Regions from separate parts of the Homo sapiens genome. Here all the other regions are linked to region 1. Evidence: fine-mapped expression QTL. A gene starts in region 1. Each other region holds a variant in brackets. All regions are shown on one strand. Distances are between the middles of the regions.

Region 1 (8,107 bases):
TGAAGATTCACCTTCTTCAAGAAGCTGTCCTTGACAAACCTCATTACATAAGCATCACTGCTCTAATTTTTTCCATTACACATAAATGAAACTTATTTATAATCAGCAGTTTGTGTTTGCTAGCATTGGCATACTTTCCTCTCTAGCTTTATTTTAAATATCTTAAAAGACAAATATTTTCTTAAGCTATTTTTAAAAATCTCCATAGCACCTCCTACAGTACTATGTACACACCAGTCCATAAAATAAGCACTGTTATAATACTAGGGATTGCGCACGTTCCACTATTACAAAATCTTTAAGTAACAATTATGTTACTTAAAATAAGTAATCTCCACCGTATCAACCAAACATGAAGATTACTCTGTCAAACAAGAAGAGAGATTAAAAAAGATATACTAAAGGTCTCTTCCAAAATTTTAGGAAAAATGACAGCATCTCAACTCACCTGTTCTATAACATCCAGTTGTTACAACTTGAAGTAGTAGGTATTGGAACTAAGAATGATATAAATAGAAATTAACAATTCGGAGATTAGAATAAGGTGCAGGAAATTACTCTGCAGTGTAATTTTTGTTTTCTCTTAATTCAAGAGAGCTTGGGAATGCTAAGGAGCTAGAAGCACCTCATAACCAAAGTCACTGAGCTGCACAGCACACAGAACGGGCTGCTTCTGCTTTTAGATGTTTTCTCTGGCAAGGGCGGAGAAGCTACACCATGCCTCTTTAGCAGTTCCTCCTTTGCTTCTCTCAAATTGTGGTTGCTGAAACGTTGTTATCCTTCTTAAAAGCCTACATCTAGAGCAGGCCCTTAGGAAAAGTCACCCAGGTTGATATGGCAAAATGCATGAATTCTTACTGTGTTTTTGGAAGTGTGTTCTGAAGCGATAGTGGCCAGCTCCTCAAGACTGTACATGCTCACATCTGCCTGAGGTGCTCCATTCTGACTGAGAATCTGGAAAAACTCACTGTTTGCTAAGAAACACAGGGAGATAAACAGGTAGTCCAGTGACAACAGTATCTTTAGGAAACCATTTCATCACTATCAAGCTGGATTATTTTTTTCGGATGAGAACACCTCAGTGCATTTTTCTCAAAAACAGATCATTTTCTGCTTTTACCTAAAATACTGATAGTTGTGCAAACTTAAGATTTGATTTTATGAATTCTGCATGTTCTGGATCACAGGAAGCAAGATACATTTAAGGTACTAACTAAAAATTTCAGATGCATACACAATTTTTTTGCGGGGGGAGCAGAAACAGTACTCTGTCATTCAGGAACATATCATATATGAAGCACTGAGGTTTGTGCTAAAGAGAATATGGCTTTAATGAAATCCCTGGAAATGTCAGAGAGAAAAAGTGTTTACAATGGTTCATTTTTAGTTTGGTAAATTCCTGATATATCATTACTGCATTTTTATCATTATTATTTTTTAGAGACAGAGTCTCGCTCTGTCACCCAGGCGGGAGTGCAGTGGCGTGATCTCGGCTCACTGCAAGCTCCGCCTCCCGGGTTCACGCCGTTCTCCTGTCTCAGCCTCCCGAATAGCTGGACTACAGGCGCCCGCCACCACACCCGGCTAATTTTTTGTATTTTTAGTAGAGACGGGGTTTCACCGTATTAGCCAGGATGGTCTCGATCTCCTGACCTCGTGATCTGCCCGCCTCGGCCTCCCAAAGTGCTGGGATTACAGGCGTGAGGCACCGCGCCCAGCCTCATTACTGCATTTTGAAAGTATGTGTACGGCATGTAAAGGTAACTATTTCGTGGAATGCATTTTTTTCCCATAACTTCCATAGAAGACAATATTTCTTTAAAAGGTCAGCCTTCAAAATGTGCTTATGCTAAACTCTACTCTCTTGCAACACATGAGCAAAACATTGCATAGGTATTATACACTATTATACAGATAAAGTTTTCCTGGTCTTTCACATGTGAACAATTAAGACACGAATGGAATCGGTGTAGATTTGCTCATCTTCCACAAAGCACCAGAAAAAGCTCAAATTATTTGTCTGACTGAGACCCCACTGACCACTCCTCTGGCTGCTTGTATGAGTCCTGGTGCATTCGTAGGATGAAATTTCTCTCCGGCTTGTTTACCTTGAACGCTGTGGACACAGCGGAGAGCATAGTTGAGGGCATCTAGAGTGCTTGGTTTATTGCGTCTCTCCGAGGGGAAGTATTTTTTCATTTCTTGGACAACCATGATAAGTTCTTCAGAAACTCTGTTTCGATCTTGCTGTTCACTGGAAGATAAAAAAAAATTACAACTTCATCCTCTGAAGACAACAGCATCTTGCGGCTTAGGGAACACAAACTGCAAGCCAGGTAAGTTTCTAAGTGCTCTACCGGCATCAGTCCACAGGGTGGTGACCCCTCTTCCTCTAGGTGGGGAACTCGAGGCAAAGCAACTGGTGAATGACAAACATTCTCCACTTACTTTCCCTTAATCCACTTGAGCCCCAACTCAGCTAACTTTTGTAACCACTTTTCCCTCCTGATACTCTTCGGTAATTTTCTTCAGTGTCACGGATCACTTCATCCTACATTGCCCGAGTCTCCCCTTTACACTTTCCCCTGGGCTTGAAAACAAAAGAATAAAAAGATTTAGGTCCCCCTTTCCCTGCTCCAGGGAAGGACAACGAACGCATGGGGCCCTCGGCCTGAAGCCAGCGCGTCACCTGTGGCTGCTGTCCGCCAATTTCCTCTGCAGATGGAACTCGGGGCTCCACCGCTCCCCCGATTCTTCGCCCAGGGCCTCGTCCTTAGCCCCCCGTCTCCCGGGGCCAGGAGCTTCCCCGCGGGGCATCTCGAGGTCTCCGCGGGGCTCCACGTCGTGCTGGGACGGCCCGCAGCCTGCTTCTCGCTCACTTTGCAGTCAGTGACAGACACCGGTTTCTCACTCCGGTCCCCGCCATGGCGTTAGTGAGAACAGGCGGCCACCACGAGCCAGGGGGTCACGCTCATCTCCGAGGAGCTTTTCCCTCCAACATTTTCAAAACCCGGAGCTCGCTCGACTTTCAGGACTCCGGCCTAGGGGGAGGAGACAAGGGTGACAAGGGACAAATGGAACAGACAGTCCGACGCCAGCGGCCCGGCTGGCTGGGGCGCCCCGACCGCGCGGTCCTCACCCCTGCCCCAACTTTCCCGCGCGCCGAGGGATGGGGCCCGGGGAGGCGGGTGGCTCGGAAGCGCCACGCTCCGGGGGCCCCCAGTACCGAGGGCAGGGCTCGCGGGGCTCCTCTGCCGCGCGCGAGTGCCCAGAACTCCCGCCCGGCCGCCCAGAACTCCCGCCCGGCCGCGCACTCACCTGCTGCCCCCGCCCTTGGCCCCGCGCACAGCCGCTCGCCCCCGGGGCCGCCCTCGCGCAGTCTCGAGGCTCGCCGCGTGCCGGTCAGCAGCCGGCGCCGCGCCCCCTGCCGCCGCGTGACCGGTCCCGCCCCCGGGCCGTGCGATTGGTCGTCGGGGCCGACTCCGCAGGCCTCCATTGGCCCTGGGGCGGGGCGCGAGCCGGTGCGCCCGGGTTATATAAGCCAGGGCGAGGGGGCGGGGCCCCCGGGGCGCGTTACATAACGCGCGGGCTCGGGCGGAGGCCGGCGCTCGGCCAATCCCAGCAGGCCGGCGGGCGGGCAGGGGACGGGGTGGCCCTCAGCGGCCTCAGGCCTGTGCCGCGCGACTGGAGTGTCCGGCCCCCTGGCACGGCGCCGGGGCGGAGCCGCTGAAGCCAGCGCAGAAATGATAGGGCCAGGAAGCTGCCAGCCACGTGGGGGCGGGACCCGGGCTCTGTGGGGCGGGGCGGGTCCGGCCCAACCTCCACGTGAGAGGCGGGCGGGGAAGGAGAGGGGAGTGAGAGGCGGGGGCAGAGAGGGGCGAGAGGCGGAGTCGGGGGGCTTGAGTCGGGGTCAGGGGGAGGCTGGAAATGGGGACGGATGGGGGCGAGAGGCGGGGACGGGGGGGCGGATGGGAGCGGGGGTGCCGAGAGACGTGGGGAGCGAGAGGCAGGGGCGGGGGGGCGACGGTGTCGAGGGCGGGGGCATTAGAGGGAGGGAGAGGCGGGGACTGGGGGCGAGCAGGGGCGGCTCAGGCCAGCGCTCTGGGGTCGAGTCCTGGAGTTTGTAGGTGGCTCCCGGCTGCCCGAGCGGGTGTGGGGAGGAGCCCAGGGTGGGGCGGGCTGCCGGCAGCGGTCCTCATCGTGCTTTGGCCGTCTTTCTGGGTTCCCACGGTTTTCACCGCCCGTGACCTACCGAGCCCACCCCAACCGCCCCCATCCTCCGCTAACTCTTTCGGTGAGTGGGGTGGACTTGGAGGAACCGGGCCATAAAGCAGCCCTGGTAAAAAGCCCACCCGATTTTTAGAAACAGATTTTTTATTTTTTGAGACAGGGTTTTGCTCTGTTGTCCAGGCTGGATGGAGTGCAGTGGCGCGATTTTGGCTCACTGCAACCTCCGTCTTCTGGGCTCAAGCCAGTTTCCTGCTTCAGCCTCCCGAGTAGCTGGAACTACAGGTGCAGCCACCACACCTGGCTAATTTTTGTGTTTTTGGTAAAGATGGTCTGTGTTAGCCAGGCTGTTCTCAAACTCCTAAGCCCCAGTGATCTGCTGGCCTCGGTCTCCCAAAATGTTGGGATTACTGGCGTGAGCCACTGCACCGGCCCAGAAACAGAATTTTGACGGTGGAACTTAAAACACTTCCCTGCACTTCCTAAAATTAGATTCATTTGGCAACTGGAGGAAGACAAACGTAAAAGACACTCTGTTTCAGAAAAGAAGTTGTAGAGCCCTTTAAAAAAAATGTCTGAAAGCTCAGTTTAGTATCTCAACATGTTAGAAATGAAAGGTACAGTGCAGAGTGCCGCCCCTCTTCGCTGCCTGGTACAGAAAAAATATTCAGTATTTGTTGGATGGATGAAATTGTATGTAAAGGAAGAGGGGAAAAGTGAGGTGAGTGTTCATGTTAGGTATTGAATAAACCACCTTATATCTTCCAAGCGATACTCTAGGTTGGCTTGCTCTCCTCCGAAGCTGGGTTTTGTCAAACTGCATTCGTTCAGCAAGCATTTATTGCGTGCAGATCTGGGTAGGGACGCTTGGAATCCCAGCGGATAGAACAGTGGCCCAAAGTCCCTGCCACCCAGGGAGTTGACGTTTTATTGAGAAAGCCATACAAACAACCCCATAAACAAGTTCATAAAGCCTAAAGCGATGTGTAGAAAACAAACTACTGGAAGGAAGAGTAACTGGGAGAAAGGTGGAGTGGGGAGGCCAGAGCCTGCTTAGTCAGATCAGCAGGGCAGGCCTCTGGGAAGGCGGATTTCAACCTGAGATGAGAGGCGCCTGCCGCGAGTGGGGAAGGCGGATTTCAACCTGAGATGAGAGGCGCCTGCCGCGGGTGAGGAAGTAGACCCGGCAGAGCTGAAAGTACCTGCAGAAGACCTTTGGAAAGAAGTCAGTTTGCTGATGAGAAACCGAAACAAACTTTATCAGGTCCATTTCTCCCTCAGGGCTTCCTTGCCTGTTTTCATTCATAGCTAACTCTGGCCTTCAAGCCACACCCTGATGTTGAAAGTCTCATGGGCACAAGTCTCTCCGATGTCAACAGCTATACTTTGGTGGAGTACCTTGCTTGGAGAAGAGAGAGCTGGAGAGTCGTGTGACATGAAGTCAGAAAACTAGAAAGGACCAGATCATCGTGGGACCTGTAATTCGGGAAAGGGACTTGGATTTTCCTATTGTAAACATAAGCAAAAGTCCTCTTCCACCCGTATTATATTGTTTCCTAGGGGTTCTACGATAAGAATGGAAATACATTCATGAGGAAAAAAGGATCTACAGGAACAGAGCCATGTGTCTGGGGATGTCCCTCACCTATCCACTCATCTATCCCAGGGTCCATGCCAGCAGCCATCTAGTCTACCACAGACGGGGTCGGCTCTGCACATCACTTTAGAAAGACCATCTATTTAGGGAACTCCAAAGCCACATCCTGAATTTTGGTAATTGTGTAAAAGCCAGTTTCCTCCTCATCGCCTATACTAAAAAGCACTTTTCACAAGGGGAGCGGTTTTCTTCTGTTCACTGGGGTATGCGGAAATGCTGGGTACCAAAAGGGTAGAGTACCTAGAGAGGGGCTGGTGAGAAAAGGGGGAGACAGTTTCGGGGCTTCTAAGGGACAGGTATGGGGAGCAGCAAGGAATGGCATTTTTAGGACTCGGACCAGGTGCAGCTATTCCTCTACAAGGAGCACAGGTGCCACAATCATGTTTATAAACACTTTATTTAGGTGATTACAGTGGGTAAGTTCCCAGCTAAGTGCACAGATAGAAGCGAGGTATTTCTGGGTTAATGCAGGAGCCAGTGGGTTACATGGGTCTGGGCACTGTGGCCAAGGGGCGAGTACCAAGGTTTCTGAGTCAGACCCGGCCAGAGACCCTGCGCTGAAGGTGGACTAATGTCCTAACACTGCCAGCTGCTTTCTCCTCACAGCTGGCCACACCGCAAGGCATCTCTTCAACAGTAAATCATTTCAGCGATGTTAAGGGAACAGACGTTAAAGAAATGGAAGCTGTGTCCTGGTGCGCCTCAGCTGTTGCTGCTTTATAAGTCATAATAGCATGTGAACAAGAGTTTTAGAATATTCCAGTAACAATGAGCCACAGAGCGATAAAGTCTGTGTCTTTCTCCCTCAGTGCCTCCTTGCCTGTTTTCTTTCATACCTGAATTCCCATCTTTAAGCTGTGGATCCTGATGTTGAGTCTCATGCATACAAGAAAAGTTTTTCCGATGACAAAGTTTCTGCTTCCAGCATTCCCATCAACAGCATTCTCTGCAGTTGATGATATCAAAGCAAAGGTCTCTGGTTGGCTACTCTCTGTGAAAAGAGCCATTCACCCCTGACCAATGCCTAATTGCAGGCATAATTTAGAAAACTGATTTAGGAAGCAGAATGTGAATACAAATAGGAAACAAACTCCAAAGTTATAGTTTATCTTCATATTTGGGCCAGATAATGATCAAGTTCACAGGTGGTCTTACTTGAGGCTACAGAATTGTTGCTTGCATAATTATCAGAAACATGCTGGAGTCCACAGCTGATAATCTGCCAACTGCTGGGTAGAACTCTTTTATGAGACGGTCAGAGTCTACCTCAAACCTTCTCTAACCCCCATGCAAAATACTGAATCAGAAGGGGAGCCACACTGTCTACAGCCTTTCAAAAGGAAGAAAGGCCTATGAAGATGTAGAAGGTTCACACACAAGGTAATGATTTTAATTCTGAAGGGGCACCTTGAGTTCCATTTGGCACGTTTCTGAATTTAACTGTCAGGAATACACTTAAGGCCATTTTATCGGTATTTAACTTTTTGGCAAAATAGAAGCTTTGGTCATAGCCATAGTTCTTTAAAAATTTTTTTAAAGAGGTTATCTCTGATTAAAACAATATTTTTAGCAAGTGATACATAACAATAACAACAATGTAAACATCTTCAAATCTAATGCAAGAGCAAAAGCTCTTCACCAGCATCTTAAATACAGCGAGAGTCAGTAGTGCTTACAAAAAGTAGAGGGTTCTCTTCTAGGGAATCAGAAAATTATCAAAATAAGGCACAGCCTGTTGTTATCACAGATTTGTGTTAGGCAGTAGTGTTTTTTTCTGGAAGGCATAAGTTGGAAATCTGATTACCCAAAGGTTTAAAATGTGGTTCTGAAAATAATGCCAAATGACAAGGGTAACTAACTGGGAGTAATGGCAATTAATTAGTGACAACATTACATCTAGATTATAGCACTCTGGAACTTAAGAAGGCCTCTTCATCAGCCCATACGTAAATCTGTAAAGGCACTGTGCAAAATGTGGACGGGGCCGGCCTTCTAATTTGGAGTGCATATTAAAAAACAAAGGCACGTTTCCTAGAAATTCAACTTTACATTAACACAAAAAAAATTTTAGAGATAACAGTAGGTAAGCTTGATAATATAGCAGGTTCTAAGTCAAAAGTCTTGAAGAGGTTTCTTGAACAGCAGTTTTGAGTTCCGCTGGTTCTTCATGAAGAGACAACCCACACTAAGAAGGAGGAGAGATGCAAAAAGGCAGGGGAAACA
Region 2 (8,107 bases), 73 kb before region 1:
AGTGCAACTTCTGCCTCACAGGTTCAAGCAATTCTCATACCTCAGCCTCCCGAGTAGCTGGAATTCCAGGTGTCCACCACCATGCCCAGCTAGTTTTTGTATTTTTAGTCAGACAGGGTTTCACCATGTTGGCCAGGCTGGTCTCGAACTCCTGATCTCAAGTGATCCTCCTGCCTTGGCCTCCCAAAGTTCTGGGATTACAGGTGTAAGCCACCAGGCCCAGCCCGGACTGAGCCTTTTAAACATAATTTAGTCCGACCATGGTGGCTCATGCCTGTAATCCCAGCACCTTGGGAGGCCGAGGCAGGAGGATGGCTTGAGCCAGGCATTTGAGGCTGCAGTGATTAGTGATTGCACCACTGTGCTCCAGCCTGGGCAACAGAGTGAGGCCCTGTCTCGAAAAATAATAATAATAGAAATAAAACACAGTTTAGATTGTGCCATACTGTTCTTCAAAATGGACCTCCTATCTCATTTTAAAACAGAAAGTCCTTACGGTGGCTTCCGGAGCCTGTGTGACCTGCCCTTCTGCATCTTTCTGGCCTCAACTCCCACACTTCTCCCCTTTGATCACACTGAACCACACGGGCCTCCTGGCTGTTCCTCAAACAGGCCTAATACAGTCCCACCCCAGGGCCTTGGCACTCGCTGTTCCATCTGCCTGGAGGCTCTTTCTCTCAGCTAGCTGTGAGGCTCTCTCCACGTTTCCTGCAAGCCTACGCTGACCCTCTCCAGGAAAAGAGCCCGTCCATCCCATCGCCCACCTGAACCTACTTAGTTATCTGTGGCATTGATCAGCACCTGACACTGAACATAAACTCGGTGAGGCTTGGTCTGTTTTGGTCATTGCTACATCCCTAGTACCCTACACAGTCCCTGGCACATGCTCAATGTTCGTTGAATGAGTGAGAGAATAACATTACTCACTGTTCAACAAACACCCTTGTCGTCTCCTCATTGCTATATATATATGTATGCATTTTTTTTTAGACAGGATCTCGCTCTGTCGCCTAAGCTGGAGTGCAGTGGTGCAATCTTGGCTCACTGCAGCCTCCGCCTCCTGGGATCAGGCCATCCTCTCTCCTCAGCCTCCTAAGTAGCTGGGACTACAGGTGCATGCAACCATGCCTGGCTAATTTTTCATATTTTTTGTAGAGACAGGGTTTTACCATGTTGCCAAGACTGGTACTGAACTCCTGGGCTCAAGTGATCTGCCTGCCGTGGCCTCTCAAAGTGCTGAGATGACAGGCATGAGCCATGCCCAGGCTCCTCATTGCTGGTAAATGACAAAACCCCGAATTCCTCGATATGGTCACGTGACATAGCCCCACTGATCTCTGGTTTTATCTGGCTGTGTCCAGCCCTTGGCAAACATGCTGGGCGCATGGCTCAGGCTGATCCCTCATCTGACCCCAGGGCCTTTGCACTCACTGTTCCGTCTGCCTGGAGGCTCTTCCTCTCAGATAGCTTCGAGGCCCTCTCCACATTTCCTGCAAGCCTATGCTGACCCTCTGCAGGAAAAGAGCCTCTCCTGTGAAGTCCCCACCATTCTCCCCACTATCTCTTGAGGGGACCAGCACGGGGCCTGTGACCCCCTCAGGGGTTATTGCTGCAGCTGACAGACGAGGCATTCAGTAGTCACTTAAGCCAAATGGTTATCTGAAATATAGGTGACTAGAAACGAAATCTAGAATTCATGTAGATTAGATTAAATTAAAATTTTAATTAATTTTAATTAATATAAATTAAAAGTCTATCTGAGAGCCTCTAACCTATGTTTTACATGAACACAAGTAAGAATGGACCCCGATGATGTCTGCAGGAAGTTCAGAAGTTCAATGTCAGTTGAATATGAGCTGCCCTGGTTTCAGGTATCCTCAACTTCTCTGGACCCAAGTCTGCGCATAAAAATGGTACAAACATTGCAGTATTCAAAGCACACACAAACATATTCCTCACAGATCACCCCAAATTATGATATTTATTTGGCAATCAGTGAATAGGCTTTAAATATTTGGCAAAGTCAATTCCTATCAATTTCTCTTCATGGAATCCCCACAACCGAGGAGAATCAATGTAACCTCATATTCAGAAGTTATGACCAGCTGGGCGTGGTGGCTCACACTGTAATCCCATCACTATAGGAGGCTGAGGCAAGTGGATCACTTGAGGCTAGGAGTTTGAGACCAGCCTGGTGAACATGGTGAAACACCATCTCTACTGAAGATACAAAAATTAGCTGAGTGTGGTGGTGCATGCCTGTAATCCCAGCTACTTGGGAGGCTGAAGCGTGAGAATAGGGACTTGCTTGAACCCTGGAGGTGGTGGTTGCAGTAAGCTGAGATCGCACCACTGCACTCCAGCCTGGGCGACAGAGTGAGACTCTGTGTCAAAAAAAAAATAATTAATAGAAGTTATGAGCATATTATACAACGACAAACGTGTCATCAGGGAGAGGGAGTTTAGATTAATTTCAAAACTAAAACTGAAAAGAGGTTTGTAATTTTTATGATATGCTTATCCAGTGGATGGGAGTGCTCCATAGACAAAGCCATCCCAAATATTAATGGTTTACTTCTTTATGACACGCAGACAATGCCCCTCTCTTTTCAGAAGTTACTTTGTTTGCAGCTAATTAGAGGAATCCCACTTCTCAGGGTGGTCTTTGTTCATGTATGTCCTGGCACAGATGTGAAGCCATGCTGCTTAATGCAAGGGCCATTAGCGTGGAATGACGTGCTCAGTACATTTCTGGGACAAGGTGACACTGTCATTGATGGTCTGTTGAAGGAAAGAAGCTAATTTTCTTTTAAGCGTAAGCCTTTAGTAGTAATTTAATTAGGCCATGCTGTAAAACCATCACTAATAACTGTCAGAAGTACCCCCTGAGTCACCAGGGAATGACAAAGCTTGGCAAACAGCCTCTTCCTTGGAGCCCCAGAGTTCATCTCCCACCTCATTTTGAAATGGTCCTCACGGGTCTTCAAAGACCCCTGTCTCTTGGCCTGAGTCCGTCCTTCCTCTTTGTGAGACTTCATGAGTGCTTTACATATATATAAACATGCATGAGCATAAACATGCACATGTAATACACAGACAGACAATGTAAAACAGCTTTTTTTTTTTTTTTTTTCTGGAGACTGGGTCTCACTCTGTTGCCCAGGCTGGAGTGCAATGGCATGATCACGGCTCACTGCAACCTCAACCTCCCAGGCTCAGG[C/T]GATCCTCCCACCTCAGCCTCCCAAGTGGCCCAGACCACAGGTGCACAACTACTCCTGGCTAAGTTTTGTATTTTTTGTAGAGACAGGGTCTCACTAGGTTGCCTAGGCTTGTCTCAAACTCCTGGGTTTGGCAATCTTCCTGCCTCAACCTCCCAAAGTGCTAGGATTACAGGTGGGAGCCACCATGCTGCATCAAAACATTTTAAGAAAAGAAAAAAATCCCTTTATTTTCAATTCTGTAAAATGACACCACCAGTGCTTGCCCACAAGCTCATCTTTTTTTTTTTTTAACATAGTAGTAACTACCTGATATTCTAGTTCTTTTATTATATTTTCCAAGTTTTTATAATCTTTTGGTTACTATTTTAATGGTTACCAAAATTACATTTTGATACTTAATGCACTTATTTAGGGCATTGAGGCCAAAAGGTTGAATTACAGGAGAGATGGAGGATTGTGGGGAGAGCAAGGGTGAGTAGGGAGAGGAAGGAGGGAAGAGGGAGGAGTCAAGTCACTGAGGGCAGAGGGCAGAGGTCAGAAGGCCAGTGGGATCCTGGTCCCTGCTCCTCCACTTTTCCTGGGATTCTGGAAGCTATCCAGTGTCTTTCCAACATGCTTCACCTTCCTTCCTTCCTTCCTTCCTTCCTTCCTTCCTTCATTCCTTTTCTTCCTTCCTTCCTTCCCTCTCTCTCTCTCTTTCTTTTCCTACAGAGTCTTCCTTTGTGGCCCAGGCTGGAGTGCAATGGCACGATCTCGGCTCACTGCAACCCCCACCTCCTGGGTTCAAGCAATTCTCCTGCCTTAGCCTCCCAAGTAGCTGGGATCATAGGCGCCCACCACTACTCCCGGCTAATTTTTGTATTTTTAGTAGAGATGGGGTTTCACCATATTGGCCAGGCTGGTCTCAAACGCCTGGCCTCAGGTGATGCACCTGCCTCGGCCCCCCAAAGTGCTGGGCTTACAAGTCTGAGCCACCGTGCCCGGCTGTTTTCTTAAATTGGATGGAAGTGGTTTCTCTTGGACGTTAGGTTCCGTCCTCTGTCCGACCCTGCTGGCACATGGGGGTGCTGAGAAATATCTGTCGAAAGAGTTAACAAGTCTTAAGTGATTCGAGCACTTTCCATCTTAGAGGACAGTGTGCGAGCACTCGCCCTGGGCTCTCCTGCCAGCAGGGGTCCCCCAGGGACTCTCTTCACTTTATTTGCCCTCGCAGGAATCTTCTTTCAGTTCCTCCTCCTCGGAGGCCACGCTTCCCCGACTTCTCTCGCTGGAGGCTCCACACTCCACTCACCACTGAACGGATGGCTGCCCTGTTCCTTTCGGCTCCTGCTCAGATGCCCCTTTTCCAGGGCATCCCGAGGGCCCTGTCTGAAATCACACTTGCCCTGACTACCTGCCCCTGTACTGTCTCCTTGTTATTGTTCTTCATAGCAATAAACAATTCCTACAGCGTATGTTAATGTTGTTGTCTATCGCCTCCAGTCAGAAAGTTCATGAGAGTAGAAACTTTTTATTTTGTTCACCGTTCTTTCCCCTAAACAGAGACTCCCATAGGCTGGTGCCCCACTCACTGATTCAACAAATATTTATCGAGTCTGCCTACTATAAAGGATAAATACATAAAATAGTGCGATAGCCAGGTGTGGAGGCTCACACCTGGAATCCCAGCACTTCCGGGGGCCGAGGCAGGAGAATCTCTGGAGCCCAGGAGTTTGAGGCCAGCCTGGGCAACATAGCAAGACCCTGTCTGTACAAAAAATAAAAAAGCCATGCATGGTGGTTTGCGCCTGTAATCCCAGAGGGTTGGAAGGCTGAGGCTGAGGCAGGAGGATTGCTTGAGGTTAAGATTTTGAGACCAGCCTGGGCAACACATTGAGACCCCATCTGAAAAAAAAAAAACTAGCTGAGCGTGGTGGCATGTGCCTGTGGTTCCAGCTATTTGGAAGGCCAAGGTAGAATTGCTTGAGCCTGGGAGGTCAAGGCTACAGTGAGTCATGATCACGCCACTGAACTCCAGCCTGGGTGACAGAGTGAGATCCTGTCTCAAAATAATAAAATAATAATAATAATAATAATAATAATGGCCAGATGTGGTGGCTCACACCTGTAATCCCAGCACTTTGGGAGGCTGAGGCAGGTGGATCACTTAAGGCCAGGAGGTCAAGACCAGCCTGAAGTCCTTTTCAAACCTTTTGTCATATTGCCCAGGCTGGAATACAGCAGCATGATCTCAGCTCACTGCAACCTCCGACTCCCAGGTTGAAGCTATCCTCCTGCCTCAGCCTCCGGAGTAGCTGTGACTACAGGGGCCCGCCACCACGCCTGGCTAATTCTTTTATCTTCTGTAGAGACAGGGTTTCACCATGTTGGCCAGGCTTGTCTCAAACTCTTGACCTCAGGTGATCTGCCCGCCTCAGCCTCCCAAAATGCTGGGATTATAGGCGTGAGCCACCGCGCCTTGCTCGGCTTTTTCATTTTCTTACCAGTATCTTGAGCAAATGTTTCTAATTTTGATAAAGTCCAATTTATCAGTTTTGTTCATCTATTGATTAATTTACAAAAATGGTATCTATGGTATACATCATGACTTGTTTGTTTGTTTTGAGAAGGAGTTTTGCTCTTGCCACCCAGGCTGGAGTGCAGTGGTGTGATTTTGGCTCACTGCAACCTCTGCCTCCCAGGTTCAAGCAATTCTCCTGCCTCAGCCTCCCAAGTAGCTGGGACTACAGGCACCTGCCACCACGCCCAGCTAATTTTTGTATTTTTAGTGGAGACAGGGTTTCACCACATTGGCCAGGCTGGTCTTGAGCTCCTGACCTCAGGTGATCCACCTGCCTCGGCCTCCCAAAGTGCTGGGATTACAGGTGTGAGCCACTGTGCCTGGCCATGATTATTATTATTATTATTATTGTTATTAGTTTGATGTTTTGATATATGCATACATTGTGGAATGGCTGAATCAAGCTAATTCGCATGTGTATTACTTCACGTTTTTAGCATTTTTTTGTGATGAGAACACAAAATCGATTTTTAGAAATCTTCAACTATACATTGTTATTAATCAGAGTCACCCTGAGGTACATAGATCTCTTGAACTTATTCCTCCTGTCTCAATTTTTTTCCTGTGTGATTTGTGTCTTGTCTAAGAAATATTTGCCTAACCTGAGGTTGTGAAGGTGTTCATGTTTTTTCCCCTAGTAGTTCTATCATTACGTTGTAACCACTTTTCTTTCTTCTTTTTTTTTTTTTTTTTGAGACATGGTCTCGCTCTGTCACCCAGGCTGGAGTGCAGTGGGACGATCTTGGCTCACTGCAGCCTCAACTTCCCAGGCTCAAGTGATACAGGCATGCACCACCACACCTGGTTAATTGTTGTATTTTTGGTAGAGACAGTGTTTCTCCTTCTCTTTTTTTTTTTTTTTAGACAGAGTCTCGCTCTGTCACCCAGGCTGGACTGCTGTGGCGCAATCTTGGCTCACTGCACCCTCCGCCTCCTGGATTCAAGCAATTCTCCTGCCTCAGCCTCCTGAGTAGCTGGGATTACAGGCACGTGCCACCATGCCTGGCTAATTTTTGTATTTTTAGTAGAGACGGGGTTTCACCATGTTGGTCAGGCTGGTCTCAAACTCCTGACCTCGTGATCCATCCGCCTCAGCCTCCCAAAGTGCTGGGATTACAGGCGTGAGCCACTGCACCCGGCCGAGACAGTGTTTCTCTATGTTGCCCAGGCTGGTCTTGAAATCCTAAACTCAAGTGATCCTCCTGCCTCGGCCTCTCAAAGTGCTGAAATTACAGGCATGAGCCACCGTGCCTGGCCTATCTTTGTAACTTTTGTGTTTAGGTCCACAGAAAGTTTTGAGCAAAGAACTACCATGATCTGACTTATGCAGATGCTTCTGGCATCACTCTGCTGTGCTGAGCCTGTGGCAGGCCCGAAGGCAGACTTCAGGACGCCTGTCGGGGACCTTTCCACCCATCCGGGCTTGGACCAGCTTGGGCAGAGTACAGTTGGGAGTAGAGGCCACATTCTGGAAATGTTTATCAGCGAGTTTTCTGGTGTTAAGTCCTTCCTCCCTCCTTGCTGAATAATAATCAACTTTATGAAGTTATTTCCTTTCTCTGAAGATTGAAGTGCTTGCGGCTTCACATGAGGCCACGTGTATGTACAGAATTGTCTTGAGCCTGGAGCAATGTTTGCTATGTATTTTAACTTTTCACTGTTTTAAAGGAAATAGCTGGTTTTACGTTTTAATCCACAGATTGTCATTCTTCAGGGATGGCAGCCCTAAACACAGCATGGCAACTCATCTACTCACTCATGAAAGATTAAAAAATGGAAACCAACGTATTTCATCTTATGCTCTGCGTCACTTCTGCTCGGACTCATAAATCCACGTCTCTTTGCTTTGGCCACTTCAACTCATATCCAAGCCTTCCTTTAATTCATGATTTATTGCTGTAAGTTGCCTCTTTTGCCAGATTTATAAACTCACTGTTCTTTATATAATACCTACTTTGTACACTAGGCAACAAGACAGTTAATTTATTGTCTATGACTTGTTACCTTGAAAAATTACATCAATGCAAAGTGATTGCCTTTTAGCCTCCATAGCCAATAAATTCATTTTTTTTTTTTTTTTGGAGAGGATGATGTCAGGTCATAGGATGATATATATAATCAGTGAGCAGGCAGAATGAGGAGACAGTTGAAAGTTCTCTACAACAGAAGCCAAGAAGGAAGCCGTCTATCTTGTGGCGATCATGTATAAGCTGGCCTCCTGCTGTTTGCTTTTCATAGGATTCTTAAATCCTCTCTTATCTCTTCCTCTCCTTGACTCCAGGGAAATATCCTTTCAACTCTCAGGTAAGATTTTTTTTTTCCCCTT
Region 3 (8,107 bases), 56 kb before region 1:
AACTCAACCCCCAAAACCTGGTTATCCCAGATATGCTAATGGACAGTATGTGCTAATGTGTTGTGAGAAAACCGGAATGTTTCATCTTAATTATGGAGGGGAACGCCAGGTTGAATGAAGCCTGTATGAACGTACTACATTCATGGAAACCATTATGAAAAGTACACAACCTGTAGGTGGCATTTCTTCAAGCACTCTAAGGGGAAAATGACTTATGTAACAGAACAAAATAAATGAGGCTAAGGTTTGGGGCTCATTCTAGCTATACTTCTAATTATAATTTACTCTGGGTGACATCTGAAATAAAGATACACATACCTCTTTAGAGGCCATCCAATCTCTTTAGAAGACAATTCAACTACAAAAAGAGCCTAACTGGCCATTTTAATATATCAGGAACAAAGAGAAGTAAGATTCTGTATACAATGTCTGCTTCAAAAAGATTACGTGTATTAAAAAATCAAGAAGAAAAAATCTTAACATTCAATGATAACTTCATGGTCATTTAAAAGTCCAGGACTTAAAAAGGTCTGTCTGTGTAACACGTCTTGGAAAGGGTATGAAGGTTCATCCTCACAGTCACTCAACAGCTGTCTTCTACCAGAACCTGACCACAGGATGTGGCCGCACCATCAGCTGAATCTTCATTTTCACAAGTGACACAGGCCTCCAAAAAAGAACAAAGCAGGCGAGTTACTTGATGTCAATGTCACCTAAAGAGTTTTAAAACAGTAAAAGGCTGGTCACATGTTTCTAAATCCCCAACTTATTCATGTCTGAAAATATTTCATTATAGTTCATTCTTTATTATTATTATAACTATTTTTATTTTTTTTTTTGAGACAGAGTCTTGCGGTGTCACCCAGGCTGGAATGCAGTGGTGCGATCTCAGCTCACTGCAACCTCCGCCTCCCAGGTTCAAGCGATTCTCTTGCCTCAGCCTCCCAAGTAGCTGGGACCACAGGTGCCCACCACCGCGCCCAGCTAATTTTTGTTTTTTAGTAGAGATAGGGTTTCATTATGTTGGCCAGGCTGGTCTTGAACCCCTGACCTCGTGATCCGCCCACCTTGGCCTCCCAAACTGCTGAGATTACAGGTAGTAGACACCGCGCCCAGCCTCATTCTTTATTATTAAAAGGCAAATGACAAATTGTTTAAATACAGTCATGTGCCACATGACGTTTCGGTCAAAAACAGACTGCATATATAATGGTGGTCTTGTAAGATTATCCTACCACATTTTTATGGTACCTTTTCTATGTTTAGATACACAAGTAACACTGTGTTACAACGGCCTACAGTATTCAGGACAGTAACAGCTGTACAGGTTTGTAGCCTAGGATCAAAAGGCTGTCCCATAGGGCCTAGGAGTGATTGTAGCAAGCTACTCCACTGAGGTTTGTATGAGTACACTCTAGGACGCTTGCACAAAACATCCCCATTACTAAGTGGTGAAAGGACTGTGCTTTTGTTTAAATTGCTGTGGGGCTCATTTTTCATATACCTGTCTATTTACAACCAGAACAACACTGAAAAAAACAAAGACACTTACAATAACCAGCCCAGCTCCTGCTTTTTGGTGAGACCCTACCCAGCCATTCTTACATGACAGACACTCATTCTTTTCTTTGAAAATGGAGATGGGGAGATTATTCTGGGAAGATGGCAGAGTAGGAAGACTAGGACTCTGTCTCCTCACCTAGACAACAACTGGACTGACAAAATGAGTCCGAGGTAACTATTTGGAACTCGAGTCTATCTGAACGCCTGCAACTTTCTAGGAAATGCTTAGACGGTAAGCTGTGGTTGCCTGTGGTCAATTTCAGCTTGAAGCACAGCAGCAACTACCCATCCCTGACCTTGGACAAGGCACGTATTCCTGGAGCAGCCTGCACACAGCTTGTGGGAGTCAGAGTGGGCAATAAGGACCCCGTCTTCCAACAATCATAAAACAAGAATCAATAAGCCCTGGGAAAGGGGAGAATCTGGTTTCCAGAATTACTATGTTATTAGATTCAAATGTCTAGTTTTCAACCAAAAAAAAAAAAAATCATTAAGGCATACAAAGAAACGCCAAAGTACAGCCCCAGCTTGTGCGACCCCCTTCCTGCCCATGGGCCACATGCGGCCCAGGATGGCTTTGAATGTGGCCCAACACAAATTCATAAACTTTCTTAAAACATTTTGAGTTTTTTTTAGTGATTTATTATTTTTTAGCTCATTAACTATTGTTAGTGTTAGTATACTTTATGTGTGGCCCAAGACAATTCTTCTTCTTACAATGTGGCCCAGGGAAGCCAAAAGATTGGACACCCTTGGTATAGGCCATTCAAAGGGAAAAATAAACCAATAGCAAAAGTCTCTGAGAAAGACCAGATGAAAGAATTGCGAGACAAAGATTTTAAAACAACTGAAAGATGATCAAAGAACTGGTAGGGCACAGTGGCTCACGCCTGTAATCCCAGCACTTTGGAAGGCTGAGGCAGGTGGATGGCTTGAGCCCAGGAGTTCAAGACCAGACTGGGCAACAGAGTGAGGCTCCATCTCTGGGAAAAAAAAAAAAATTAGCCAGGCATGGTGGTACACACTTGCAGTCCCAGCTACTTGAGAGGATCACTTGGGACCAGGAGGTAGAGGCTGCAGTGAACTGTGATCATACCACTGCACTCCAGCCTGGATGACAAAGTGAGACTGTCTTAAAAAAAAGAAAGAAAAAGAAAAAGCTGGGTGCGGTGGCTCATACCTATAATCCTAGCACTTTGGGTGGCTGAGGCAGGTGGACTGCTTGAGCTCAAGAGTTCAAGACCAGCCTGGGCAAAGTGGCAAAACTCCATCTCTACGAAAATTAAAAAATTAGCTGGGCATGGTGGTGTGTGCTAGCTACTCGGGAGGCTGAGGTGGGAGGATTGCTTGAGCCCAGGAGACTGAGGCTGCAGTGAGCCATGATCATGCCACTGCACTCCAGCCTGGGTGACAGAGTGAGACCTTGTCTAAAAAAAAAAATAGAAAAAAGAAAAAGATGATGAAAGAATTAAAGAAAGACATGGAGCAAAATCAAGAAAACAATGTACAAACAATGTAAATATCAATAAAGAGATAGTAAACCTAAAAAGAAGCCAGAAAGAAATTCCATAAATAAAAAGTACAAAACTGAAATGAAAAATTCACTAGAGGGATTCAAAAGCCGATCTAAGCAGGCAGAAGAAAGAATACACGTATGAAGACCGGACAATTGAAACTGTCAAGTCCGACGAACAGAAAGAAAAAAGACTGAAGAAAAGTCAACAGGGCCTGGAGGACATGTGGGAAACCATCGAGTGGACCAACATAAGCACTACAGGGGCCCCAGAGGAAGAAAAAGAGAAAGAGGCAGAAAGATTATTCGAAAAAATAATGGCTGAAAACTCCCCAAGTTTGATGAAAAACATGAATGTAAAAGTCCAAGAGGCTAAATGAACTCCAACTAGGATGTACTCAGAACTCGGAGATCCACACTATAATTAAATACCGTGCAGTCAAAGACAAAGATAATCTTAAAAGCAGCAAGGGAGAAGCAACTCACACATGCAGGAGATTCTCGATAAGATTATCAGCAGATATCTCATCAGAAACTGTGGAGGCCAGAGGGCAGTGTCCCAGTGTATTCAAAGTGCTTAAAGAAAAAAAACTGTCAACTAAGAAATCCTTTGGCCAAAAGTAAGGGAGAAGTGAAGACATTCCCAGACAAACAAAAGCCAGGGAGTTTGATACCACTAGACCTACCATCCAAGAAATGCTAACAGGAGTCCTGCAGGGTTGAAATGAAAGGACACTGACAGTAACCTGAAGCTGTGTGAAGAAATAGAGATCTCAGCGAAGGTAAATATTATGATTGCAACGACAATGTGCAATTCCACTTTTTGTTTTCTACATGATTTAAGAAACTAATACATTCAAAGAAAACTAGTAGTCTATAAAATCCAGTATTATTTTAACTTTGATTTGTAATCTCATATTTTGCTTTCTATATTATTTAATAGATTAATGCATAAAAATAATTATGTTTTTGGAAACACAACGTATAAAAACCTAATTTCATAACTTCAGTAACTGAAAGAAGATGGAGATGGAGCTCTACAGAAGCGAGTTTTTGTAGGTTATCAAAGTTAAGCTGGTATAAATTACACACTGGAGTGATATGTTAGAATGCTAAACGTAATCCCCATGGTTATCGCAATGAAAATAGCTACACAATATACACAACAGGAAATGAGCAGGGCATTACATTTCACTTCAAAAAACCAACTAAACACAAAAGATGACAGTAATGCAGCAAATGAGGGAAAAAAAAATCTTTATGGCACATAGAAAACAAATAGCAAAATGCCACAAGTAAGTCCTTCTTTACCAGTAATTACTTTAAATGTAAATGGGCTAAATTCTCCAATCAAAAGACAGAGATTGACTGAACCGATTTTGAAAGGCACTATTCAGATATATGCTGCCTACTCACTTTAGATCTAGATACAGATAGGTTGAAAGTGAAAGGATGTAAAAAGTTACTACATGCAGATAGTAACCAAGAGAGTAGGTACGTCTGTAAGTCAGTCACACCAAGACAAATAATGTATGATTCCACTCATATGAGGTGTGCAGAGTAGTCAAATTCATATGGCTCTTG[C/T]CTGTAATCCCAGCACTTTGAGAGGCTGAGGCGGGCAGATTACTTGAGGTCAGGAGTTTGAGACCAGCCTGGCCAACATGGGGAAACCCCATTTCTACAAAAATTAGCTGGGCATGGTGGTGTGCGCCTGCAATCCCACCTACTCTGGAGGCTGAGGCAGGAGAATCACTTGAACCTGGGAGGCAGAGGTTGCAGTGAGCCAAGATCACACCACTGCACTCCAGCGTGGGCAAGAGAGCAAAACTTTGTCTCAAAAAAAAAGAAAAAAGAGAAAGTAGACCAGTGGTTGCAAAGGGTTGGGAGAAGGAGGAATGGGGAAGTTATTGTTAAATGGGTACAGAGTTTCAGTTTTGCAAAATGAAGAGAGTTCTGGAGATGGATGGTGGTGATGGTTGCATAATGTGAAAATATTTAATATTCTTGAATTATATACTTAAAAATAGTTCAGAAGGTAAATTCCATGTTATGTGTATTATACCACAATAAAAATGTTAGTTTTTAAAAAGAGGGGGTAGTAGGATTTCATTGTCTTGCTTACTTCATAAGCCTTAATATCATACTTTAACACCTAACTTTACTCTCTTTTTTAAAAATATTTTTACACACACACACACACGAATTATTTGTCTTTTTTGAGACTGGCTGGAATGCACTGGCGAGATCATAGCTCACTGTAGCCTCAATTTCCCAGGCTCAAGCAATCCTCCTGCCTCAACCTCCTGAGTAGTTGGGACTATAGGTGCACGCCACCACACCTGGCTAATTGTTTTGATTTTTATTAGAGATGAGGTTTGGCTATGCTGCCCAGCGTGGTCTCCAACTCCTGATCCTCTCACCTTGGCCTCCCAAAGTGCTGGGATTACAGACGTGAGCCACTGGACTAGGCCTACTTGTTATTAACTTGACTCTTCAACCTCCCATATCTTGATACTTGCGGGAATAAAGATCTCACTACTAGTACAACCATCACTACCATTACCACAGCTGCCACCAACACTGGTTGGGACCATTGGTAAATCAAAGCTTTACTGTTCAGGCTATTCACAAATAATCTCATTGAGAAGAACTCATAACAGCAAAAAGACACTTAAGTCCCATTAAAGTTTCTGCTTAGTATGAATACTACCTCTGGTGTGAATCTTACATCTTTTTTTAACTCTTTTCAAACAATGCAGACATATTTGAAATACATAACAAATGACCTATCAAATGCAGTCAATCACACATCAAAGCAGGTGTTTTTACTCTTTATCGTACCCTAACATTCCAACTGGTAGAAGAAAAAACCACCTGGAGGCAAAAAGACCTGTATTCAAAACCCAATGAACTGCATGGCCTTGTATTAATTATTTCACATGTGTATAACCTGCTTGTTGCTTATTGGTAAAGAGGGAATAATAACACCTACCATAGAGGTAAACTGTGAGGATTAAAGTTTTTAGTGGGATCATGCAAGAACACGACCTATATTAAAAGCACTACCTGGCCAAAATACATGAGTATATGACAGCCATTATTACTGTGCTTACTTGAATGTCGATTTCTTGAGTGACAGTCTGGCTTTGAATCCAATTATACACCTTAGCCAGCTCCTCCTTTTGCCCATGAGAAAACTGGGGCTGCTGCTGCCTCATACTTTCTAGCTTTTCCAGGTCTTCTTTTAGTACAACTTCTTTAACCCTGAAAACAAACAAACAGAATCTTAATAGTCCTGAATAAGACACAGGGTTCTTTTCCCGTCATCTAGGAATAGCACTTCTTCTTGGTTGGTAATACACCTTACATTTTCTAACACATGAGGCATACATTAAAAAAATAACTAGATCATTTCCTTTTCAAGTTGGTAAAGGCTTTTTTCTTGGTGGAAAATATCTATATGATGTTTTAATGAGGTGTATGGAAGAAAGAGATTTCCCTTAGCTCTTTTTAGAAGGGGCAAAAAAATCAAGAGTCTAAAACAAAAAGTTCTTGTACTTGTGTGCCATCTTGGAAAGCACAGACTTTGTTTCTTTGTCTCATGATGTGTAAGATCTGTTTAGTCTGGATCTGAATAGAGGTAACATTACCACTGCCACCCTTATTTTAAGAAATCATTCATCACTTGACTTCAAATGAATAAATTTGAAGACACATTTCTCAAAGGGAATTTATAAAACATTCAATAATTATTTTGTCTTTAAAAACACATTAAGAAACCATAGGCCGGGTGCAGTGGCTCACGCCTGTAATCCCAGCACTTTGGGAGGCCGAGGTGGGCAGATCACCTGAGGCCAGGAGTTCAAGATCAACCTGGCCAACATGAGGAAATTCCATCTCTACTAAAAATACAAAAAACTAGCTTGGTGTGGTGGTGCATACCTGTAATCCCAACTACTTGGGAGGCTGAGGCAGGAGAATCTTGAACCTGGGAGGTGGAGGTTGTAGTGAGCCGAGATGGCACCACGGCACTCCAGCCTGGGCGACAGAGTGAGACTCTGTCACAAACAAACCCCGTCTCTACTAAAAATACAAAAATTAGACACGCATGGTGGTGCACATCTATAATTCCAGCTACTCGGGAGGCTGAGGCAGAAGAATCGCTTGAACCCAGGAGATGGAGGTTGCAGTGTGCTGAGATCGTGCCACTGCACTCCAGCCTGGGTGACAGGGCGAGACTCCGTCTCAAAAAAGAAAAAAAAGAAAAAAAGAAACCACAAAAATATAAAAAGTGGGTTTTCTAAAGTGCTTTCTTACCTCTCAGGTACCTGGTATGTCATGAGAATGCGCTCAGGTGTCTGCCGTATCATTCTCCAGATGGGCTCTTCGGCGACATTAGGAAATGTTTCTTTTTTCTGTACGTCCTGAGATTGCTGCCCATTTTGGGAGATTTTAGAAGAATAAACACTACTAGTAAGGTATATACTGCTGTCGCTGCTTCCTGTCAAAAATCAACAACACATAATTAGAAAAGACCTGTCCGACTGATTTGCCAAACTGGCTCTCATTCTTCAGACTCTTGCCTCGGACAGTCCTCCTCCTCAGCCAGCCCAACCATCATTTCCGGGAAACTTCCTCCTCCCTGTGGACAGCCTCCTGGTTCTTTGGTCTTCCTGAGATCTCTTTTTCCATTCCTAATGAGCTATCACTCTCAAGGCTACACACATTGTCCTTTATCATCACCCATAACCGCTCCATCTCCAAAATCATCAACATCTCAGCTTCACTCTCTCATGGGCTTGTTCAATTATTTCAACTATAAATGTGTTAATAACGTCTTAGTCTTCCTGTAGTGGAGTCCTCAGTTCATCATTCAGTAACACACCTTGCAATACCTTAGACTTCTTTTTCCCTCTGACTTTTCATAACTGTCAAAATGCCAACTCCAATAAAGCCAATTATTGACTTTGTTCTTACCTAAACCCAAGTCGCCAAATACATACAGAAAGTCACATATAACAGGGTACAGTG
Region 4 (8,107 bases), 36 kb before region 1:
GTTGGTCAGGCTGGTCTCAAACTCCTGACCTCAGGTGATCCGCCCGCCTTGGCCTCCCAAAGTGCTGGGATTACAGGCGTGAACCACCACGCCCGGCTGCTTCATAGCTTTCAAAGCTGTTATTAATGAATATACATTTATGACTGTTATGTCTTCCTGATGAATTGACCACCTTGTCATTATGAAAAGATGTCCTGGAATCTATTTTACATATATTAATAAGGCACTGCAGCCTTCTGATGCTTACGGTTTCACTTGTGCATCTTTTTCCATTCATTTACTTTCAATCCATTTGTGAATTTCACTTGTACTTTGCATATAGTTAGGTCTTGATTTTTAAAAATCTGTTTTGAGAATTTTTGCCTTTCATGTATTTACTTATTTTTAGAGACAGGGTCTTGCTCTGTCCCTCAGCTGGAGTACAGTAATGTGATCAGAACTCACTGTAGCAACGAACCCAAGATGAGCTCAAGCTAGGCTCAATTGATCCTCCTGTCTCAGCCTCCCAAGTAGCTGGGACTACAGGTGTGGGTCACCACACTTGGCTAATTTAAACATTTTTTGTAGAGATGGGGTTTCACTGTATTGCCCAGGCTGGTCTCAAACTCCTGGCCTCAAGCAATCTTACCTCCTTGGCCTCCTGAGTCCCTGGGGTTACAGTTGTGAACCACTATGCTTGGCCCAATTTTTGCCTTTTAATTGAAGTGTTGAGTCAATTTTATGTCATTATTGACATAGCTGCATGCAGAGCTATTATCTTATTTGGTTTGTTCTCTCTGCTTCTTTTTTGTTAATCTATTCCTCCTTTCCTGCTCTTCTTTGGGATTGAGTTTATTTTAAATTTGCATTTTATTGATTGGCTTAGTCATTGTATCTCATATTCCATCTTTTAAAAAATTATTTTAGGGCTGGACGCTGTGGCTCACGCCTGTAATCCCAGCACTTTGGGAGGCCAAGGTGGGCGGATCACCTGAGGTCCGGAGTTCGAGACCAGCCTGGCCAACATGGTGATATCATCTCTACTAAAAATACAAAAATTAGCTGGGCATGGTGGCGGGGCCTGTAATCCCAGCTATTTGGGAGGCTGAAGCAGGAGAATCGCTTGAATCCGGGAGGTGGAGGCTGTAGTGAGCTGAGATCGCACCACTGCACACCAGCCTGGGTGACAGAGCAAGACTCCTTCTCAAAAAAAAAAAAAAATTTTTTTTTAAATTTTTTGTAGACAGAGTCTCACCATGTTGCCCAAGCTGGTCTCAAACTCCTGCATTCAAACAATCCTCCTGTCTTGGCCTCCCAAAATGCTGGGGTTATAGGCATGAGCCACTGTGCCTGGCCTACATTCCATCTTAATTAGACCCTGCTTTAGGTTCAAAGTATCTGTAATGGCAACGACTCCTAGAGACTAATGGTCAATACTTGATTCCCTACTCTACTACTCATGGGCTGTGTCATATTGGGCAAGTGAAGTTACTGTGCCTAATTTGTGGTTTAATTGTTCCACACATAAAATGAAGACATTAACTTGCAAGGAAATGCATTTGTGACCATCGTCCTTAGACACAACTCATCTGAGTCAGGATGCAAACTGAGCTAATGAATATGAGCTTTTCAGAAAGCAAAAGACATAGAGATATGTTTTAAGGAATATCTGGGCTCTGATTCTGCTTTTTCTCCATGGAATAAAGATGTGGCCCTGTAAATGTTGAGGCTGATTTAAGATCAGAAGAAACTAATAGCAGTAAAAATTTCCTAAAGCATATAGACTTTAGTATAAATTCATTAAAAACGGTCATATAAGAGCAGAGTATAGAAAGCAGAGTGGCAGAATATAAAAAAAAGAGCTTTTCATATTGGGTGATACCCTCCCTTCCTGTATGGGCTGTATTATGAACAGCTACATGCCCACACAGGAATGCAAAATATTAAAAGGCACACTAAAAAATGTGCATATGCTCCTCTGTGGAGGGGCTAGCTCAGTTCCAGTGAAACTCTACTTTTGACTAATTAGAAACGTAATGCTCTCTGATCTTTCTCCACCAATCCACAGATCTCCTGTCAGTACCACACTCTCCATCTCACAGGTTGTTGGAAAGATTTAATGAGATCATACCAGTGAAGAACTAAGAGCAGACAGTGGCACACAGAAATGGCTTAACACGTATTAGCTGATAAGCCACTGAAGACTAGCAAAGATAAAGCAGAGATCATGTGAAAACCCAATTTAACGTATTTGTCACCATTCCTTCATCTACCCAAATTGTTATGAGTGATGAAAATGTCAAAAGGACAAGTGGCAATAAAGAGGAATAAGAAGACAGTAGAATAATTTACCAAGAAATTATGGTATTAAATGAAGAGTTTTAAAGTACTCTATTCATTGCCATCACAGCAATACAAAAATCTGAAGGTATGTGTGACTGAGCTCATCACAATACAGGATGGTGAAATGCAGGTGAAAGGAACACATTCTGTGAAAGTCAGCAAGGAAGTAACCTAACACAGTGCCATCAATAATTGCATTAATAATGGCTAACACTAATTGAGGGCTAATACCTACCTACTAGGTACTGTATTAAGTGCTTTATATGTGTCAACTGATTTCATTGACAAATAACATAACTGAGAAATACTGTCCAAAATATGTAACCAACATAAACATGATAATGTTTCCAGAAATACTTTAACTGAACTAAAGAAAGGAAAAAATATGTGTAGTTTAGAAGTTACAACCGAGCGAATGGTATTCATGACTTTTGTTTTCTCATCACAATGTAGTTAAAGTTGAGTATATTTTCAAAGTAAGAGGCGAGTGTGGTACCTGTCTCTGGGGGTGGGACATGGACAATGGTGCTGCTGTAACCGCATTGGCTTATGCCCGACCCCAAGCTCAGCATCGCCGTGGACAGGATCTGTGGAGCTCCTCCTCCTGTGTCTATGGACCGTCCATTTGTTGGCATTTCTGATTTAGGTATGGCTGGGATTTGCAAACCAGCTGGTGGTGTAAGAGAAACTGACAGTGAAAAGAAAAATTCCCAACGAGAAATTTACATAAAAGACCCAGTTTACAGAAGTTTGTAACTGAGAAATTAAACCTTACTGTCATAAAGAGGTAATATGAAACCAGAATTTTATGCTTATAACAATATAAGACATTAAAGAGAAACAAGAAGGATGTATTTACAGTTCTTTGAATTTAACTCTGAGGGGCATTCTTGTTACCTTGTAAGGCTTGGACATCATCTGCCTTGTGGTTCTGTTTGTCTTCTTCTGAGGAGGAAGAAGTTGTATTTGTACAGGAGATACACTTTCTTTTCAAAGCTGGAATGTTGTAGCTCTTCAGGTATCTGTAACAACATAATTAGGCCACACATTCTTACCTGTTCCCTAATTGTGCCATTTCCCACCTCTTTGCTTTTCTCATGCCACTTATGTTTGGCATACTTTGTACTTTCTTCTTTGATAAAGTCTTCCCTGACCATCCCAGCCTCAATCACTGGATTGTAACATTTCTTTTACTGTGGTCTTGAATTAACCTTCAAATCTTATACCATGGGTGTCCAATCTTTTGGCTTCCCTGGGCCACACTGGAAGAAGAATAATTGTCTTAGGCCACACATAAAATACACTAATACTAATCATAACTGACGAACTAAAAAAAAAAAAAAA[T/AT]CACACAAAAAAATCTCATAACGTTTTAAGAAAGTTTACATACTTGTGTTGGGCTGCACTCAAAGCTGTCCTGTGCCACATGCAGCCTGTGGGCCATGGGTTGGAGAAGCTTGCCTTACACCATTTAATTTTGACAAAATTAGGTCTTGTCTTCTGAACTATACCACAGTTCCTTCAAAGAAGGAATGCATCTTCTAGCTTTTTGTGCCTTCTGAAATGTTCAGCGTATGTGTTAGGCACGCCATAAACGTCTACTGATTTATAGTGAAAAACCAAGTCAGAGCAGCTATTAAAAATTCTATGAAGTCTCTACAGTGGCAGTGTATGCTTCCGGAACAGACTTACATGGTATCCAAACTTGCGGTCTCATACCTGATGACACTGTCGATACAGTTGATCTGTTGATAGGATGGGCTGTGCTCATCGTTCCTCAAATCCTCACAGGGCTCAGTGTACACACTATTGTTTTTCAGTGTTTGGTGGAAGGAAGTAAAGGTCTTACATTCACCTGAAACAGAATAAAGGGATGTGCAATTAAAAGTACCCAGCATGTAATTAAGAACATATACTTTCTTACCAAAATTAAATCATGGCACTTTATCATGTATATATCAACAGAATATCATGCGGCTATTAAAAATGAGTGCAGATCTAAAATGCACTAATAGAAAGATATCCACAACACGTAATGAATAAAATAAGGTGCAGAGCACATTACACATAGAATGGCTACGATTGTATTTAGAAAAATAAGGAATGAAACAAAAATTTCCAACAAAGATTATCAAGGAATGAAACCATAGGTTTAAGGTTGATGGGGAGCTTTCCAATGTTAAGCTGACGCTTCCTGTACAACTGATCAACCCTGGCAATCACTAAGGGTGGAATGTGGGAAGACCTGTGCATCTTACGTGATGCTGTGTGAAGTACACAGCATCTCCCAGGTGGAGCCTGTGTCCAACAGAACTTTCTGTGATGACTGATGGATTATTTGTGCTGACTAGTATTATATGTGCTAACGTAACTATTAAACACTTGGAATATGGCTAAAGCAACTGAGAAACTAAATGTTAATTGTATTACATTTAATTGTATTGAATTTGAATTTAAATTGCCACATGTGGCAAGTGGCCACCATTGTAGATGTAGTAGTTTAGAGAGAAGAAAAAACCTCCAGGCTTAAGCACTAAAAACTTCCTATAAAGGACAATGAGCCAATAAAGGAGACTGAAAAAGGGTAGCTGGAAAGATAACAGAAAATCCTGCAAGGTTTGGCCTCACAGCGACCAAGAATGAAAACTTTCTTAAGGAAGGAGTAACTAATTATGTCATGTACTACTGAGAAGTTTTGTAGAAGTGTTAGATGCTGGTCATTTTTAGCTGGCTTGGAAGAGGCTTCTCTATTTTCAGAGCATATTATGGAAAAATGACTGTATTACCTTTCACTCATTAATGATTTTTAACTTTTAATTTTGAAATAATTTTAGACTTGAAGAGTTGCAAAAATAGTACAATAGAGTTCCTATATGCCCATCACCCAGCTTCCACTAATGTTACCATGGTCTACAACCATAATAAAATGACCCCAACTAGGAAATGAACAGTGGTACCATTCTACTAACTGGAAAACAGACCTTCTTTGGATTTTATCAGTTTACCACTCAATGTTGTTTTCCGTTCAGGGTCAGAACTTTAGTGGGATGGCCTTCGATTTGAGTTTCTCTGATGTCTTCTCATGATTAGATTGAGGTTATGCATTTGGGGAGAGAATGCGGCGGAGGTGCAGTGTCCTTCCTTGTGCATCATCCCAGGGTACATGATGTCAGTATGTTTTGTTACCTTGTTCATTGGTTAACATGGTGTCTCTCAGGTTTGTTTGTCCTGTGTAAAGTTACTATTTTACAATGTAATAAATAATATGTTTTGGAGGAATACTTTGAGATCACGCAAGTATTCTGTTTCTTTTAAACTTCTCAAAGTTTAAGTTCTCCATTAACCTTTCACCTCTATTTCATTCCTTGATAATCTTTGCCTGAACCATCTGTTTTATTCTTTATTTGGTATAATATACTAACCCGTGTCTATCCATCCCTCTGTATATTAAACAAAAGGGGCATGAGTCCACACTGAAACTGTTCGCGCCAATCCAGCACCATGGAGTTCCTTCCCTTCTGCTTTGTGTGGCTTTCCTGATAGTGAGGAGTCTGGTCATCGTTATCTATAGCGGCTTCCACAATTTGTTCAACCCTAGTATAAAGTCGCTTTAGAATTGCTAACCCATACTCTGGTGGGAAACGAATACACCAACTTGCGTACAGTGTTTGTGCACATTCATAATTTTGTATTTAGCCCTAGGAGATACAGTTGAAGCACTGTTTTCCAAAGCTACTGAGCTCCGTTCTTCCCCACCCCTTCCGTGTGTTTAGGCCTGTCATCTGTAATGCAGTTGGACTCAGTTGTCAATGCCTGCATCTCATCTTGGGTTCTCTCTGCATTTTGGGGTGAGATGGAGTGCACAAATCTGTGGGTTTTGGCAAATGCACGGAAAGTTGTGTATCCATCACCACAGTAACCAAAAGAACATTTCCATGACTTAAAAATGTCCTTACAGCTGTCCCTCTGTAGTCACCTCCTTCTCTACCCAATCATAGTAAATACTGATCTGTTTTCCAGAGCTAGAGCATTCCAGAAAGAACGCTTTTCCAGAATGGAATTGTACAATATGTAACCTTTTGGTTCTGCCTTCTTTCACTTAATGAAATGTATTTAAGATTTATATATACAATGGTCTGTGAATCAAGTTCATTTCTCTTCACCGTTAAGTAGCATTTCACTGTGTGGATACACATAGCTTATCCATTCTCCTGCTGAATGACATTTGGGTTGTTTCTGTGTTTGGAGAGTAACAGTGTAATAAATATTCATGTACAGGTTTTTGCGTGAACTTAAGTTTCTATTTCAGTTGGGTAAATCACTAGGAATAGAATTGCTAAGTTACATGGTAAGAGTATGTCTAACTTTATGGGAAATGTCAAACTTTCCCAAAGTGGCTGTACAATTTGGCATTACCTCCAACAATAGGTGAGTGCTCTGGTCACTCTGTGTCCTTGTCAACACTTGTCAGTTTTTTAAAAAAACTTAGCCATTCTCACAGATGTGTGGTGTTATCTCATATGGTTTACATTTTTTTTGTCTAATGACTTAGGTTCAGCATCTTTTCATATGCTATTTACTGTTTATGTATCTTCTTTGGAAAAATGTTTCTAATTGGGTTGTCTTCTTGAGTTTTGAGCGTTCTTTATGTACACTGGATATAACTTCATTATTGTATATATCATTTGCAACTATTTTGTCTTTTCATTTGTCTTATCAGTGCCTTTCAGATAAGATTGGGTACGTTCAGGGTGGTATGGCCATAGTTATCAGTCTCTTTCAAAAAGGAGAAGTTTTAAATTTTGATAAAGTCCAACCTGTCCTTCCTTTCTTTTCTTTTGTTCAGTATGGCTAAAGACTTATTAATTTTATTACCCTTTGATTTAACTTAGTTTCTCTTCAATTCCATTGATATCTGGTCTTTATTATTTCCTTCTTATTGCTTACTTGTGAAACAATTTGTTCTTTTTTCTCTTATTTTTAAGGAGGAAGCTTAGATTACTGAGTCGAGACCATTCTTCTTTTTTCCATATAAACACTCAGTGCTGTAAATTTCCCTTTAAGCAGTGTTTTAGGTATATCCCACATATTTTATGTTCTCTTTTCATTTTGTTCAATTCAATTTTTTTTTTTTTTTTTTTTTTTTTTGAGACGGAGTCCGCTCTGTCGCCCAGGCTGGAGTGCAGTGGTGGGATCTTGGCTCACTGCAAGTTCCACCTCCTGGGTTCACGCAATTCTCCTGCCTCAGCCTCCTGAGTAGCTGGGACTGCAGGTGTGTGCCACTATGCCTGGCTAATTTTTTTTTTTTTTGTATTTTTAGTCGAGACAGAGTTTCACCGTGTTAGCCAGGATGGTCTCGATCTCCTTATCTTGTGATCTGCCCACCTCGGCCCCCTAAAGTGCTGGGATTACAGGCGTGAGCCACTGCGCCCGGCCCAAAATGTTTTTATTTCCCTTGAAACTTCCTCTCTGACCTGTGGATTATTTGTAAGTATGAAGTTATTTAATTTCTGAACATTTGAGGATTTTCTGGATACCTCTGTTACTGATTTCTAGTTTAATCCATTATGGCTAGAGAATAAACAGCTCTGATATTAGATACATAAACATGTAAGACTGTTCTATGTTCCTAAGGAATCAACTCCTTTATCTGTTACACAGTCTCTCTTTCTAACTCTACTAACATTCCTTGTTCTGAAGTTTACTTTGTGTAATAATACAGCTTCCCGCTTTCTTCTGTGTTAGCATGGTATATCTTTTCTACTCTTTTGCTTTTAACCTATGTTTA

Direction of the effects. Positions count from the first base shown, and alleles are read on the strand shown. Sizes are in standard deviations (SD) of each study's normalised expression. Not every link is listed here.
For the expression in whole blood of the gene that starts at base 3,404 in region 1, allele C in region 2 goes with a lower level than allele T (moderate effect, 0.42 SD a copy in Lepik 2017).
For the expression in lymphoblastoid cells of the gene that starts at base 3,404 in region 1, allele T in region 4 goes with a lower level than allele AT (moderate effect, 0.45 SD a copy in TwinsUK).

Evidence for each region.
Region 2: its variant is fine-mapped to the expression of PER3 in whole blood (Lepik 2017, PIP 0.95).
Region 3: its variant is fine-mapped to the expression of PER3 in blood mononuclear cells (TOPMed, PIP 0.96).
Region 4: its variant is fine-mapped to the expression of PER3 in lymphoblastoid cells (TwinsUK, PIP 0.95).

What each region holds. Positions count from the first base shown.
Region 1 is chr1:7,779,588-7,787,694 of GRCh38, reverse strand. PER3 (period circadian regulator 3) reads right to left here and starts at 3,404. Exons shown (of 22, transcript NM_001377275.1): 1 at 3,319-3,404; 2 at 2,690-3,041; 3 at 2,109-2,254; 4 at 859-974. The coding sequence starts at 2,817. VAMP3 (vesicle associated membrane protein 3) reads right to left here. Exons shown (of 5, transcript NM_004781.4): 5 at 6,263-8,069. The coding sequence ends at 8,050. RefSeq lists a silencer at 3,329-3,938.
Region 2 is chr1:7,852,879-7,860,985 of GRCh38, reverse strand. It overlaps UTS2 (urotensin 2), which reads left to right and starts at 7,921. Exons shown (of 4, transcript NM_006786.4): 1 at 7,921-8,085. The coding sequence starts at 7,983. RefSeq lists an enhancer at 7,713-8,107. The variant C/T (reference allele first, on the strand shown) is at 3,221.
Region 3 is chr1:7,835,232-7,843,338 of GRCh38, reverse strand. It overlaps PER3 (period circadian regulator 3), which reads right to left. Exons shown (of 22, transcript NM_001377275.1): 20 at 7,394-7,577; 21 at 6,190-6,340; 22 at 1-667. The coding sequence ends at 584. Among named protein-coding and RNA genes, the nearest start is that of UTS2, 14 kb to the left of the region's middle. The variant C/T (reference allele first, on the strand shown) is at 4,661.
Region 4 is chr1:7,815,352-7,823,458 of GRCh38, reverse strand. PER3 (period circadian regulator 3) reads right to left here. Exons shown (of 22, transcript NM_001377275.1): 14 at 4,039-4,174; 15 at 3,220-3,344; 16 at 2,819-2,992. The region is part of intron 1 of LOC124903833 (a long non-coding RNA gene); the gene reads left to right. Among named protein-coding and RNA genes, the nearest start is that of UTS2, 34 kb to the left of the region's middle. The variant T/AT (reference allele first, on the strand shown) is at 3,667.